Linked DNA regions of Homo sapiens: region 2 is linked to region 1. The links come from fine-mapping of genetic effects on gene expression. Tissue or cell type: regulatory T cells. Region 1 holds a variant in brackets; the other region holds the start of a gene. All regions are shown on one strand. Distances are from middle to middle.

Region 1 (7,717 bases):
GTCCCTTTTTTTCTCCTCCCTGCCCTTCCCCATCATTGTAGCCAGCAGCAGCTCCAAACTTCACTGCTGCTGGGGAGCAAGTAGTAGAGGGGAAGGAGGGAGGGAGGAGATGGTGGGCACCAGGGGGACCCTGACCCTCTCCCATGACATTTCCTGCCACCCGCAGCAACAGTGTGGTGTGTCTGGGTGATCCCAGGCCTGCCACAGAACAGAAACAATGGCTAGAAAAGATGGATATCTCAGTGGTGATCAAGGTGGAAGGATGACTGAGGACGAGGTGTCTCTCTGCATCCCAATCCCCTGACTTCACATAGAACCAGAGCACTGAGGCACAGCTGACTGCCCAGGAAAGGGACCTTGAATTCAGAAACTCAAGTGTTGCATTTAAAATCAAGGACTTTAGGATGAAATTTCTCATGCACTGCATTGTGGACAGGGATTCACGGTGTCATGGATGGGGCACCTCCCAGTGCTGGGTTTTGTGTGCAGCACTTTGTATCCATTCTCTCTGACCTCCCAACAGCCCACTGAAGGAGACATTACCACCCTCATTTCACAGCGGGGTCAGAGGCCACAGGGAGGTCATGGGGGAGGAGGAGAAGCAGGTACCTCAGTCTGAGGTTTGGACCTCCCCCTCCGACTCTGAGGGCAGTGCTGAGAAGCTCCCTAAGAGGCAGGGACCAGAGCTGGAGGAGTGGAGACTGTCACAGACCCTTCCGGGGCTGCTGTGCCATTGCTGGAACCTTTTCTATGGAGAGTACTAAGTACCTCTACCTGTAGCACTTTCCCTGGCTGGAATCCTGCAATTGTCACAGTGGTCTGAGATCCAAGAAGGCAGGGCAGAAGCATTGTGTCCCCTTCCCAGCAGATGCAAGGGAGGCTGGGGGGTGAGGCACAAGCCCGTGGGAGGGTGAGGGGCAGGATGGGTGCATGGTGAGCCTCTGTTGACTGCTGGCTGCCTCAGCTGGAAGGTCAGGACCCAATGGCTATTACAGGTTACAATTACAGAAGTATTTTGGATTTCGGATTTTTTCAGATTTTGGAATTCGAAAATCTGAAATCGAAAATGCTCCAATGAGCATTTCCTTTGAACCTGGCCTTCGAACATCATGTCGGCACTCAAACAGTTTTGGATTTTGATTTTCAGATGAGGGATGCTGTATTATCTTCTGAATGAGGCCACTCATTTAGGAAAGCCAAGAGTTTGGGGACATGGAGCTGCAGGCCAAAGAGGTGATTTTTGAGGTGCCTTCCAGTGCAGAAGGGCCTACAAAGTGGTTTAAGCCAAGCCACAAAATAGGAAACCCAATATTTAGCTAATGGAACACTGATAAAACCTGCTCAAGATGTCTGTCTCTACTAATTCAGATGGAGCCAAGCCAATGCATTCTTATTATTTTAAAAAGGCACCAGTCCGTCTGCAAAAGCACTGAATTGTATCACGCATCATCAGTGGTGGTTTTTTACGGATATGAAGAAGGGGTTTTCACAATACATCGCACGACACACTATCTTCCAAATCTCTAAACATTTCTCTCCCCAGCCTGATCTTCTCCAGTTGTCCAAATCACTCCCTCTTTTCTCTTGTCTCCAAAACTCAAAACCATGTTCTGACTTTCTGTGTCCTGCCCTCCCCTACTTGGACCACCTGAGAAGGCCCCCGGTTCCCCAGGGTGTCCCCTCCTCCCCTCCTGGGATCCCCCATCTTTCCTCAAATGGACCAGTTTGGCCTCTGTTAGTTTCTCCAACTCTGCATCTCAACCTTTCTCCCTTCACTACAGAATAATGTCCAGGAGGCCAAGAGCCCACAAACCAGGGACCCTCCCTTTCCAGAAGGGAGGAGAGAGGTGACTACAAATATTTGGTTATGATTTTCTTCGCTGCCATGCCTGTTTCCATGGGCAGTGCTGAGCCCCAGTCCTGGCAGAGCTCAGAACCAGGCTTTCAAGAGCTGGGGCAAGTGGGGCCTAGGGAGCCTCTGGGTTGAGGATCTTGCACCCCACTCTGCAGCTGCCCTGTCCCAACCTCTGTCCCTTCCTTCCTGTGCCCCCAGGCCTGCTCTGCCCTGTCCTGCCTCAGCCTGCCCAGGAAGGCCTCTGCTTGAGGCCCCCAGGAGGCTCACCCCAGAGCAGGCATTATGATGGGGACTCCCACATCCCACCTGCAGAGTCTGCCTGGGGCTTTGAACCAGCCAGGAAGCTCATGTGGACAGGGCTGGCCCCGGGCCTAGTGGTGGGGGAGGCAGGTCAAGTCTGAGCCCTCCCCAGTGCTGCCCCCATCCCCAGGCCTGGCTTCCTCTGGCACCCAGTCCTGCAGGTCCCACCCACCCTGTGCTCTGCCAGGTCAGGGGACTGCTGCTATGGCATTAGAGGGTCAGAGCCGCAGAGGGCCCTGGAATTGATTAGCCAAGTCCACCTCCCATGCCTCAGGATGGGGATGTTAAGGCCTAAAGCGAGTCAGGGACCCTCATCCACAAAAGAGCACATAATTTTGGACAGAATGAGCTAGAACCCTGGTCTCTGAACTTCCACGCTAGTGTTTTCCCCATAACACATAGGGATTCCATCATTTCTAGCTGGGCTCATTGGCTCATGCCTGTAATCCAAACACTTTTAGAGGCTGAAGTGGGAGGATTGTTTGAGACCAGGAGCTTGAGACAAGCCTGGGCAGCAGTTTGAGACCCTGTCTCTATAAAACATCAAAAAATTAGCCAGGCGTGGTGGTACACATCTGTAGTCTCAGCTACTTGGGAGGCTGAGGCAGGGGGATTGTTTGAGCCCAGGACTTCGAGGCTGCAGTGAGCTGTGATTGAGCCACTGCAGTCCAGCCTGGGTGACAGAGCAAGACCGTGTCTCTAAAACGATAATAATAGTAATTTCTAAACTATGGAGGTGGGTAAGGGTGGGTATTGTCGAAATTAATGGAATTGAAAGTGTAGATTGTGGGTTCTCCTATGGTTATTTGCATTTTAAGTGGAACATAAAGATCAAAACATCTTGACACACAGGCAAATCCACGGAGACAGAAAGCAGATGAGTGGCAACCGGCGCCTGGGGAAGGTGCGGAATTGGAAGTGACTGCTTCGTGGGTACGGGGTTTCTTTTGGAGGGATGAAGAGGTTCTGCAGTGATTAGTGGTGATGGTTACACAGCACTGTGAGTGTACTTAATGCCGCTGAATCATACACTTGAAAATGGTTGAAGTGGTAAGTTTTATGTTTCATGTATTTCACCACAATTAAAAAAGAAAGCTCCCGGACTCAAATACATAAAACCTGTATAGAAAAAGGTCTCACTGCTGGGAGTCTGTTTTGCTTCTTTCCTTCTCTCTCTGTGCCTCCTTCACCCAGTCTAAGAGGGGAGCTACACGCAGTGTAGAGAGTGACTGAGAATCCACTCCAGGACAGCATCCCAAGAAACAAGACAGAACCAAATGATAAAAGGAGTTGTTTCTGGAAAAACATCCTGGAATAGGGGAGGCAGCACAGGTCAAGCCACAGGGGAGGGTCTGTGACAGCTGCTTTACTCCACGGGGTACCACTGAATGCTCCGGTGGTTCCTGACTTCACATTTTAAAAATTATTTTTATTTATTTATTTTTTTTGAGATGGGGTCTGTTGCCCAGGCTGGAGTGCAGTGGCATGATCTCAGCTCACTGCAATTTCTGCCTCCGGGTTCAAGTGATTCTCCCGCCTCAGCCTCCTGAGTAGCTGGGATTACAGGTGCACGCCACCACGCCCAGCTAATTTTGTATTTTTAGTAGAGATGCTGTTTCGCCATGTTGGCCAGGCTGGTCTTGAGCTCCTGACCTCAAGTGATCCTCCTGTCTCGGCCTCCCAAAGTGCTGGGATTACAGGTGTGAGCCACCTCGCCCGGCCCTGAGTTCACTTTTTTTAAAGACTCCACATATGAGTGAGATCATGGGCTATTTGTCTATGTGTGCCTGGCTTATTTCACTTAACATGGTGTCCTCCAGGTTCATCCATGTGGTTCCAGATGACAGGATTTTGTCCTTTTTATGGCTGAATAGTACTTCATTGCCTATAAGAAATGACCCATGCATAAGGGGATGGATGTGCTACCTCCCTGATTTGATCATTACGAAGCATATCTGTATTGAAACATCAAATTGTACCCTATGTACACTTTGTACATACAATATGTACACTTTGTACATATTGTATGTACAATTTGTACATACAGTAGGTACAAATTGTACATACAGTAGGTACAATTTGTACATACAATATGTACAATGACAATGTGTCCCTTTTAAAAAACTGGCTCGCAGTAGAGACCAGTAAAGGCTTTCGCAGCTCCAAGGGAGATCACAGACTGTGGAGCAGGCTGGGGGCTCCAGGGCCTGGGCCCCTGGCACTCACCACTGTACTTTCCAGGCACAACCCTCCCTCTCTTTAAGGTCAGGCATTCCCCCTCCCCTTCCTGAAGGTCCTGCTTCAAGCCTGCCTCCTCCTTCCTCACCCAAACCACTCGCTGTGTTTTCACCCCTTATCAGAAAATTACTTAGGCCATGAAGCTCTGTATACATTTACCAGCTTTCTGAAAAGGCTTTCATATCAGGCAGTTTCCCACGGGGTTGGAGTCTCAACGCATTGAAATGGTAAATTATGCTGGGTGCAGTGGTTCATGCCTGTAATCCCAGCACTTTGGGAGGCCAAGGTCAGGAGTTCGAGACCAGCCTGGCCAACATGGTGAAACTGCATCTCTATGAAAAATACAAAAATTAGCCAGGCATGGTGCGCACCTGTAATCCCAGCTACTCGGGAGGCTGAGGCAGAATTGCTTGAACTGAGGAGGTGGAGGTTGCCCTGAGCCGAGATCATGCCACCGCACTGCAGCCTGGGTGACAGAGCAAGGCTTCTTCT[C/CA]AAAAAAAAAAAAAAAAAGAAAAAAAAAGAAAATAAAAAAATTAAAAAGAAATGGTAAATTATGTTTTCTTTACTCCCTTTACTGAACTCCTTGTAGGGCCTAGCACTGTATTCTGCACACTTGAGTCCATCGTCCAGCAGATGCTGGTCCTTCATCTGGTCTGGGGCTCTGAGCACTCGCCCCACAGTGCTGACCCGGCGGTGCTCACCGGGGTGGGAGGGAGTTGGCGCTACTCTCCTTGGAGTGCTCTTGTAGGTATGTCTTAGATCTGTGGTCTGAGGCATGTTAGGAGCCTAGAATAATTTCCCAAGGGGAAGAACTGAAAGTCCCCACGAGAGAACAGAGCTTGCCCATCTACTGAAGAACAGTCCTCCAGGGTCCTCTCCTGATCCTGCTCAGCTGCGAACTCCCTCCTCGCCCACCCCTCCTGTTCCTCTTCCTCCTCCTCCTCCTCAGCTCTCAAGGTTTAACCATCAGGTTAAACATAGTCCCCACAGGGTGAACCCAAATGAACACCCAGCGCTGTCAGGCACGGACTGTTGCATGGATAGGCTCACGGCAACCCTTCAACCTACACATAGGGCAGCCTTATCCCAAGCATGCGCATTGTAAACGCACACTTCCCAGGGGCGGACAGGGAGCCTGGATTCCCGGCTCAGCTTAGCTGGTGATCAAGGTATAACCTTAGTCCCTCCTCTCTCCAGGCCTCAGTTTTCTGGCTGTATAATGAGAGTACTGGACTTAATGAACCTGGGTTTCCTTTCAGCTGGCGTGTCCATGTTCACAAAGTTGTTCTTGGTGTCACTCAAGCAGCTGCTCCTGCCTCCCCAGCCCTGCTCACACACATGCCCATAACCACATACATGTGGTTAGAGTGGGAATGAGGAGGTGTGGGAGGGCAGCCCCTTCAGAAACTGCTGGCCCTGCTGGTGTTGCCACCCAGAGGTCCTGGACACAAAGCCCTCCATGGACCCCCTTAGGCTTGCCTGGCAACAGACAGGGACCTGTTGCCCAGACACATGCTTCTGCCTGGTGCCCCTCAGCTGACCGCAGGGAAGCTTTGGAAATACCCCACAGAAAGGAAGCCACTAGATCCCATTCTCCTCAAGTCTATCTGGGGAGAGGGGAACGCAGAGTGAGAGGGCTCATTTTCTGGCTACATTAGCTGTTAGCCGTTAGCTCCGGAGGTCTGGGCCGGGAAGTCCTGGGCAGCGCAGGGAGCGGCAGGTGAGCATCTGCTTCACCCCAGAGGCTGCTCCTGGCTTTGCCAGACCTGACCTCAGAGGATTTGGTCACATGGGGGTGTTGTATCCCTGAGACTCACAGAGACACGCAAAACACCAAGTGGGGGGTGGGGGTGAGGCCTACAGAGGGGAAGGAACTTGCTGAGGCCTCCACAGTGAAGAGGGCACCTCCAGCGCCTGGCCTCCAGAAGGTCCTCAGGCCTGAGCTCCCCTGTAGCACCAACACAAGGCAGTGCTGGGCCACTACCCCCTGCCCTTCCCCCCTTCCCTAAGGTGCGGCTAATAGGTCAACTGTCCTGGTCCAGGGATATTTTTAGCCAGCAACATTTTGCTCTGAAGGTGGCTTTCCTGTGGCTGCAGGAACAAATTGAAACAACTGGTTGGCTTAAAATGCCAGAAATTTGCTCACAGTTCTAGAGGCCAGAAGTCTGACATCAAGGTGCTGGTAGGGCCACGTTTCCTCGAAATGCTCTATGGCAGAGTCCCTCCTTGCCTCTTCCAGTTCGTGCAGGCCTCAGACATTCCTTGGCTCACAGCTGCATCACTCCCACCTCTGCCTCTGTCTTCAGGGGTCTTTTTTTCTGTCTCCTATAAAGACACTTACTGGATTCAGGCCCCACTCAGATGATCTCATCTTGAGATCCTTGATTACATCTACAATAATGGCAGATTCACAGGGTATCGGGGTTAGGAAATGGACATATCTTTTTGGGGGCCACCGTTCAACTCATAACATATACCACTGCATTACCGCGTGCCCCTACATTGTCAGCCATACTCTGTTGTTTGTTCCTGCTTTGTAGTAACAATAACAGCAACAGCAATACTAACAGATAACATTAATTGAGTGCTTACTACGTGCCAGGCACCATGATAAGCCCTTAACATATTAACTCATTTAATTGTCACCACAACCATGTGAGGTGGTTCCTATTCTCTCCAAACTACAGTTGAGGAGATGAGAGTCAGAGAGGAACATGTTGATCACAGGTGAATAGAGAACCAACTCCTGGGATCCCAGAGTTCAGAGTGGACAGAGACAAAGGTAAGAGACAGGGGACCTGCCCCTGGGTTTGGAGAGCAGGAGGACCAAGGAAGATGGTGGAGGAACTCAGGCCAGCACCACTCCACCCCTTTCAGCTGTGTCACCCCAGGCTGGAGCCATGCGTCACACACCATGAGGACACTGGGGCTACAACTGACACATGTTCCTGCCACGTGGTGCTAAGAATCTTGGGAGAGAGAGATGGAAACCAAACAGTTGCATAAATTAATGTAAAATTGCAAATGGAATGCAGAGCACAAGGTTGTCTGTAAAAACTCAGGCCAAGGAAGAGCTTCCTGAGACAGAAACGTCCAAGCTCAGAAGTAACCAGGCAGGAGAGGAAGGGAGGAGTGTTTTGGGCAAAGACTTTGCATCTGCAAAGACTGTGTGGCCAGAGGAGGCATGAAGAGTTTGAGGAGTTGAAAGAAGGCCTGAGTGGCTGCAACTCAAAAGAGGCTTCCTAGGTGGTGAGGAGGTGAGGGGTGGAGCCAACCATGTCAGGCTCTGAGTGTCCAAGAGTGGTAAGAAGCCAGATTTTAGAG
Region 2 (7,717 bases), 87 kb before region 1:
ATGATCTCAGCTCACCGCAACCTCTGCCTCCCAGGTTCAAGCGATTCTCCTGCCTCAGCCTCCTGAGTAGCTGGGATTATAGGCACGTGCTACCGCGCCTGGCTAATTTTTGTATTTTTGTAGAGATGGCGCTTTACCATGTTGGTCAGGCTGGTCTAGATCTCCTGACCTCGTGATCCGCCCACCTCAGCCTCCCAAAGTGCTGGGATTACAGGTGTGAGCCACTGCAGCTGGCCAGCATGTTTTAGTTTTATTACTAACTGTGACTTTGAACATATTACTCATTACTTAGCCCGTTTCCTATTCTGCAAAACAGTAGTGATGATGATCACACTTGCACCTTTAGTATAGGGCCATGGTGAGAATTAAGTAAGATGATCCAGGTGCCTGGTCAGGGTAAATACTCAAATGAGGCCGGGCGTGGTGGCTCACACCTGTAATCCTGGCAATTTGGGAGGATGAGGCAGGAGGATCACTGGAGCCCAGAAGTTCAGGCCAGCCTGAGCAGTGTAGCAATACCTCGTCCCTATTTAAAAAAGAAATTAAAGAGAATATCAGGAAGAATAGCTAATGCATGCTGGGCTTAATACCTGGGTGATGGGATGATCTGTGCGGTAAACCACAACGGCACATGGTTACCTGTGTAACAAACCTGCACGTCCTGCACATGTACCCCTGAACTTAACAGTTGGAAAAAAAATTTGCAAGGTGTGGTGGCGTGCACCTGTAGTCCCAGCTACTCGAGAGGCTGAGGCAGGAGGATCACTTGAGCCTGGGGGGGTCAAGGCTACAGCAGTGAGCTGTGATCATGCCACTTTACTCCAGCCTAGGTGACAGAGTGAGATCCTGCCTCAAAAAAACACAGAAACAAAAACCCTCAAATGTTAGGTGTTAGCCTCACCATCACGACCACCCTGGTCTTCTACATCCTAATTTTGAGCATTTCCCACAATCCTATGCTATTTCCTAGGCCTGGTTAGAAGGCTAAGAAGCACTGTAGTTCATACCTGGTGCAAGAGGGTCCTTGGACATTGCCAAGGGAAATCCTCAGCCCAGGACTTGATTGCATGAGGGTGTGGGTGCAGGGGTGGAGCAGATGTAGAAACTCTGATGATGCTGCCGGTGTTAGTCTGTTCTTGCATTGCTGTAAAGGAATACCTGAGACTGGGTAATTTATAAAGAAAAGAGATTTAATTGCTTCCTGGCTCTACAGGCTGTGTAAGCATGGCATTGGCATTTGCTCAGCTTCTGGGGAGGCCTCAGAGAGCTTTTACTCATAGTAGAAGGCAAAGCAGGAGCAGGCACATCACATGGTGAAAGTAGGAGCAAGAGACAGTCGGGGGAGGTGCCACACACTTTTTTTTTTTTTGAAATGGAGTCTCCCTCTGTTGCCCAGGCTGGAGTGCAGTGGCGCAATCTTGGCTCACTGCAACCTTCACCTCCTGGGTTCAATCGCTTCTCCTGCCTCAGCCTCCCTGAGTAGCTGGGACTACAGGCGCGCACCAGCATACCCAGCTAATTTTTTTTTGTCTTTTTAGTAGAGACAAGGTTTCACCATGTTGGCCAGGCTGGTCTCGAACTCTTGACCTCAAGTCATCTGCCTGCCTCGGCCTTCCAGAGTGCTGGGATTACAGGCGTGAGCCTCCACGCCCGGCCGAGATGCCACGCACTTTTAAATAACCAGATCTCACGAGAACTTACTATCACGAGGATAGCACCAAGCCATGAGGGACCCATCCCATGACCCAGTCACCTCCCACCAGGCCCTACCTCCAACATTGGGGATTATAGTTCAACATGAGGGTTAGAAGGGAAAACATCCAAACCGTATCCCTGCTGCTTCCTCCTGTGGCCCTGCAGGCAGAAGATCCTGAAGGAGAAGGCTGTGCCCATGATAGAAGGCTACATGTTTGAGGAGCATGAGATGATCCGCCGGGCAGCCACGGAGTGCATGTGTAACTTGGCCATGAGCAAGGAGGTGAGGGTTGGTCTGGGTGCTCATGACAGGCGGGGATGCAGAGGTACCTGTGCCCTGGCTGGGCTTTACACCCAACTGACTTGGTCCACTCCTCACATCTGGCCACAGGTGCAGGACCTCTTCGAAGCCCAGGGCAATGACCGACTGAAGCTGCTGGTGCTGTACAGTGGAGAGGATGATGAGCTGCTACAGCGGGCAGCTGCCGGGGGCTTGGCCATGCTTACCTCCATGCGGCCCACGCTCTGCAGCCGCATTCCCCAAGTGGTCAGTGCCTCTTCTCAGTGGGGGAGGAGGGACGGACCAGGAACTCCCAGCAGCAGCTGAAGGGGGCAGTCCTAGGGTGTGTGGGTGTGTCCCTTGCCAAGGTTGAGCCTGTTGCCCAGGGGTCATATCTACCCTGTTTTTCTCACAGACCACACACTGGCTGGAGATCCTGCAGGCCCTGCTTCTGAGCTCCAACCAGGAGCTGCAGCACCGGGGTGCTGTGGTGGTGCTGAACATGGTGGAGGCCTCGAGGGAGATTGCCAGCACCCTGATGGAGAGTGAGATGATGGAGATCTTGTCAGTGCTAGCTAAGGGTGACCACAGCCCTGTCACAAGGGCTGCTGCAGCCTGCCTGGACAAAGCAGTGGAATATGGGCTTATCCAACCCAACCAAGATGGAGAGTGAGGGGGTTGTCCCTGGGCCCAAGGCTCATGCACACGCTACCTATTGTGGCACGGAGAGTAAGGACGGAAGCAGCTTTGGCTGGTGGTGGCTGGCATGCCCAATACTCTTGCCCATCCTCGCTTGCTGCCCTAGGATGTCCTCTGTTCTGAGTCAGCGGCCACGTTCAGTCACACAGCCCTGCTTGGCCAGCACTGCCTGCAGCCTCACTCAGAGGGGCCCTTTTTCTGTACTACTGTAGTCAGCTGGGAATGGGGAAGGTGCATCCCAACACAGCCTGTGGATCCTGGGGCATCTGGAAGGGCGCACACATCAGCAGCCTCACCAGCTGTGAGCCTGCTATCAGGCCTGCCCCTCCAATAAAAGTGTGTAGAACTCCACTGTGTGCCCTGTCCTTGGGCAGGGAGGGCTGCTGTGAGTGGGAGTCTCTGAGTGGGTGAGTGTGGGTGAGTATGGGTGTGAGCTGGGCGTGGGTGAGTGTGCAACGGAGCTTCACAGTGGCAGACCCACCTCCATGGAAGGAATCCAATGGATTCCCCAACCAGGGCCCACTGAGTTGCTTCTTAATCCTACTGGAGGGACAAAGGGTAAGCCTAGGAAGCTAATCAATAAGAAACTCACCAGGTGCGGTGCCTCAAGCTTGTAATCCCAGCGCTTTGGGAGGCTGAGGCAGGTGGATCACTTGAAGTCAGGGGTTCGAGACCAGCCTGGGCAACAAGCAAAACTCTTTCTCTATAAAAATACCAAAAAAAAAAAAAAAAAAAAAAAAAGAGCAGAGTGTGGCGGCATGCACCTGTAATCCCAGCTACTCGGTAGGCGAAGGTTGCAGTGAGCCCAGAGCGCAGCCTCCCAAAGTGTCGCCTGGGCGACACAGCGAGACCCTATCTCAAAAAATATTAAACTATCCCAAGAAATAAGTCGTTTAGGGTAGAGACTCCCATATGCTGGGCCTTCAGTACGTTTGTCTTTATATTGGGAGTCCTCTGTGGCCTCCGCTGAGGGCGCTGGGGCGGGGGTTGGGGTTGGTGGCCAGCTGAGCCTGGTTGAAGGGCGGCTTGGGCCCCGCCCACCACCCCAGCACGTTCGAGGAGGGCTAAGCCCAGCGTGAGGCTCGTTGGCTCGACAGAGGCACGTGACGGGTCCTGAGCCAATCCGTGGAAGGTAAAAGCTGCTTCCTGTTGGGGCATGAGTCCGGCGCGTGTCGGGTTTTGAGCTGCCGCGGTCCCGGGACTGAGGTGGGTGGCGGGGTCCGCCCGTCTTGGGCGTCACTCCTCGCCAAACCTTTAGCTCAAGTCTTAATGAATGTCCTCTCTGTGGTTCTAATCCGAGCTCCAGCCCCACGGGTTCCTGCAGGGGCGGGACCACCTGGCCCAACCTCTGCCTTGGTCCAACGCCCCCGGTTTCCTCCAGGGCCTTGGTCCAACGCCCCTCGGAGGTTTCAGCCCATTTCACAGACCGGGCCGCAGGGCCCCGGCGTAGGCCTCGGGACCGGAGAGGCCCTCAAGGGGAGTTGAACAGGGCTGCGGCCGCCGCGCCCCGGGCGGCGACGTCACCGCCCTTGCTGGTGATTGGCCGCCTCGCGCCGCGCGCCCTTCAAACCTTTTCTCCCCGTGGCTGTCGGCGCCCGCTGGGCGGGAGGCCTTTCCGGAGGCGGCCGCTCTGCGCCTCGGCGTTTCCTCCAAGGCTGCCCACCAGAAGGACCTGCCCGAGAGGGTAGAGGGCATAGGGTCAAGATCAAGGTCAGAGGCCCCCTTGGGTTGGGAGAGGACACGGAAGGGGTTAGGAGCCCAGGAACTGGGGTCTCAGGAGAGACCCAGGATCTGACTTAAGAGGCCTGAAAATGCCCATGCAATTCTGCTTCAGCCCGGGTGCAGCGGCTCACGCCTGTAATCCCAACGCTTTGGGAGGCCGAGGCGGGCGGATCACTCGAGCCCAGGAATTTGAGACCAGCCTGGGCAGCATAGCGAGACCCCTGTCTCTATTATATTAAAAAAAAAAAAAAACAAACCCGCTCCAGCCGAATCTGCTTGAAGTTGGCGTTGCTGTTGTAACCACCAGACTGTTTGTCTCCCCATTTAACGGTTAGCTCCTTGGGAGCAGACAGCTGTCCTCACTGGCAGAGGAGGAGCGCTCAGTAAATGCTCGCTGGACGAATAAATGGCTAGATAAGGTACAGTTGAAATTCTGTCTGTATAAGTTTCTCAAAACCAGTAAGATGTCCAGGGATAATTTTTTTGTCAACACTAAATACTGGATTCAGTAAGCTAATACTGTGTGTTTATCATGGCATGTACTCGCACCAAACCCTTTATTTGCATTTATTACAATTCTGTGAGGAAGGTTCAAACAGCACCGCCCCCACCTCCCTTTGTAAACTGAAGAAACGCAGTTGGACTCAGGTGGATTGGCTGCGGTCCCAAGGCCCCGCTGAGTTGCAGAGGCACTGCCTCCCAAACGCTCTTCTGCGTTCCGCTGTGGGGAGAGGGGCAGAGCACTGTGTGTGGAGTTGGTGGGACCTGATTTCAGCGCTCTGCCCCTCTCTGTCTGGCTGTATGAGTGTGTAAGGGTTACTTTGTCTCAGAATCTCCTCTGTAAAACGACCATTTTGGTTCCCAAGATTACATGGGATAAAGTGCCAGATGCTGGGAAGCTGCGGGACGGGGTGGGGGTGTCGGGGGCGCTCGGATCCTAGTCCAATGCCTAAAGGACAGGCCACTTCGTACCCACTTTGTGGCACGCTGAGCTTGAGCCAAAAGGGAGGACAGGGAAAGTGCCTCTAAATATTTGAGCATCTTTGTAAATCCGGTAGGGCATTAGTCAGGGCGCCTGCTCAGCGAACCTTCGTGGCACGGACTCTGCCTTTGTGGTCGGGAGAATGATAGTTTCTCCATTTTACAGATAAGGCAGCTCCAGCCCCTGGAAGGCCAGAGACTTGCCAGTGTCCCACTAGCGGGCTCTTCGCAAGAATCCCCCCGGGCCCGCCGCAGCCAGGCGGCGGCCGGCAGAGGGCGCTGCTCGGGCATGGCGGAGGAGCGGCCGGGGGCCTGGTTCGGCTTCGGTTTCTGCGGCTTCGGGCAGGAGCTGGGCTCCGGACGCGGGCGCCAGGTGCACAGCCCCAGTCCGCTGCGGGCGGGCGTCGACATCTGCCGCGTGAGCGCGAGCTGGAGCTACACCGCTTTCGTGACCCGTGAGCACTCCCCGCCCCGTCCCCACTTATTCCAGCCGCGCTCCCCAGTCGCCTCCCCGCACCGCTGTGGCCAGTCCAGTTTGTCTCCCCCGTTCAGGCCGCCAGCCCCACATTCTGGGTTGGTCCCCAATTCGACCCCTTCCCAGGAACACCCCGCTCCCCCCATCCCCGCCGCCTCCATTCTGGCCACCCTGCTCCAATCCGCCCCGCAGGTGGAGGCCGCTTGGAGCTGTCGGGCTCAGCCAGCGGCGCGGCGGGCCGCTGCAAGGACGCGTGGGCCTCGGAGGGGCTCCTCGCGGTGCTGCGCGCCGGGCCGGGGCCGGAGGCGTTACTGCAGGTCTGGGCGGCCGAATCGGCGCTGCGTGGGGAGCCATTGTGGGCCCAGAATGTGGTGCCCGAGGCCGAAGGGGAAGACGATCCGGCCGGTGAGGCCCAGGCTGGGAGGCTACCCCTGCTGCCCTGCGCCCGTGCCTACGTGAGCCCGCGGGCGCCCTTCTACCGGCCTCTGGCTCCGGAGCTGCGGGCACGCCAGCTGGAGCTGGGCGCCGAGCACGCGTTGCTGCTGGACGCTGCTGGCCAGGTGTTCTCCTGGGGCGGGGGCAGGTGAGCGGAGGCGGGGGCAGGTGAGGGCTGCTGATTGGAGAAGCAAGCGGAGCGGGACCCCTTAATGCGACTGTAGCTGACGACGGTCTCCCTTGCTCAGGCATGGACAGCTGGGCCATGGGACCCTGGAGGCAGAGCTGGAGCCACGGCTGTTGGAGGCGTTGCAGGGCCTAGTCATGGCTGAGGTGGCCGCGGGGGGCTGGCATTCTGTGTGTGTGAGTGGTGAGTGACTTAGTGCTTCTCCAGACGAGCTCATGATCTTGTGCAAACCTTCCTCCTCGTTTTCCAGTTTGGGTGGGGGCCTACCCAGGCCTCCTTCCAAATTCATCCATCCATCGCCCAGTCAGTTATGACTCCTAAATGCCTCTCACCCTCGGCCTCCTCTGCCTGCACCATGGCCCACTCACGCCTGGACTCTGGCATTTGTTCCTAGCTTCTCTGTTACTGGTCTCACTGCCCCTCCCCTCCTCTCCCCACCTGCTCCCAGCCAGGACTGTCTCTTAACAGTGCTGCCGAGGGAGTATGGAGTGTGAGGGGGCAGCTGAGCCAAGGAAAACGCAGAAACGCTGCAGTTGCCTAGGGGGCCATGATGTGTGGCACAGGGTGGACACTGGGGTGCCCACCAGGCACCAGGATGGTGATGAGTGTGTCCCTGTGGTGGTGCCACAGCTGGCCAGAGTGAGGAGTTTCACTTGGTGATCCAGGTGTAGCTCCTTCCTAGGCTGTTAGAGCCCATGCAGAGAGGGTGAGGCTGGGAACAGATGATCTTTGTCTGTGTCTGGGGCTCTCATTCTGGCTGCTACGTAGATCACCTGGAAGCTTAAAAAATTACCAATGCCAGGGGGCCGGGCGTAGTGGCTCATGCCTGTAATCCCAGCACTTTGGGAGGCCGAGGTGAGTGGATCACGAGGTCAGGAGTTCGAGATCAGCCTGACCAACATGGTGAAACCCCGTCTCTAAAAAAAAATACAAAAATTAGCTGGGTGCAGTGGTGTGCGCCTGTAGTCCTGGCTACTCGGGAGGCTGAGGCAGGAGAATCGTTTGAACCTGAGAAGCAGAGGTTGCAGTGAGCCGAGATCGTGCCACTGCACTCCAGCCTGGGCGACAGAGCGAGACTCAGTCTCAAAAAAAAAAAAAAAAAAAAAAGAAAAGCTACCAGTGCCTTCCTCCACACCATATTCTCATGGAATGGGCCTGGGCTGGTTGCCAAGCTCAGGAAACCCTGGGCTGAGCCTCGCCAACGTGGCAAAACCTCGTCTTTGTACAAAAAATATAAAAATGA

Evidence for each region. PIP is the estimated chance that this variant, and not a neighbour inherited with it, causes the effect.
Region 2: RCCD1 starts here. The variant in region 1 is fine-mapped to the expression of RCCD1 in regulatory T cells (Schmiedel 2018, PIP 0.95).

Annotation. Positions count from the first base shown.
Region 1 is chr15:91,037,926-91,045,642 of GRCh38, forward strand. No RefSeq gene overlaps it. Among named protein-coding and RNA genes, the nearest start is that of VPS33B-DT, 19 kb to the left of the region's middle. RefSeq lists an enhancer at 5,392-5,893. The variant C/CA (reference allele first, on the strand shown) is at 4,886.
Region 2 is chr15:90,951,069-90,958,785 of GRCh38, forward strand. It overlaps RCCD1 (RCC1 domain containing 1), which reads left to right and starts at 3,816. Exons shown (of 8, transcript NM_001017919.2): 1 at 3,816-3,880; 2 at 5,544-5,832; 3 at 6,045-6,435; 4 at 6,536-6,657. The coding sequence starts at 5,667. It overlaps UNC45A (unc-45 myosin chaperone A), which reads left to right. Exons shown (of 20, transcript NM_018671.5): 18 at 1,861-1,978; 19 at 2,087-2,242; 20 at 2,391-3,025. The coding sequence ends at 2,648. It overlaps RCCD1-AS1 (RCCD1 and UNC45A antisense RNA 1), which reads right to left and starts at 3,425. Exons shown (of 2, transcript NR_170325.1): 1 at 3,267-3,425; 2 at 1,170-2,137. RefSeq lists enhancers at 2,173-2,673, 3,498-4,052, 3,853-3,962 and silencers at 4,183-4,312, 5,543-5,772, 5,893-5,942.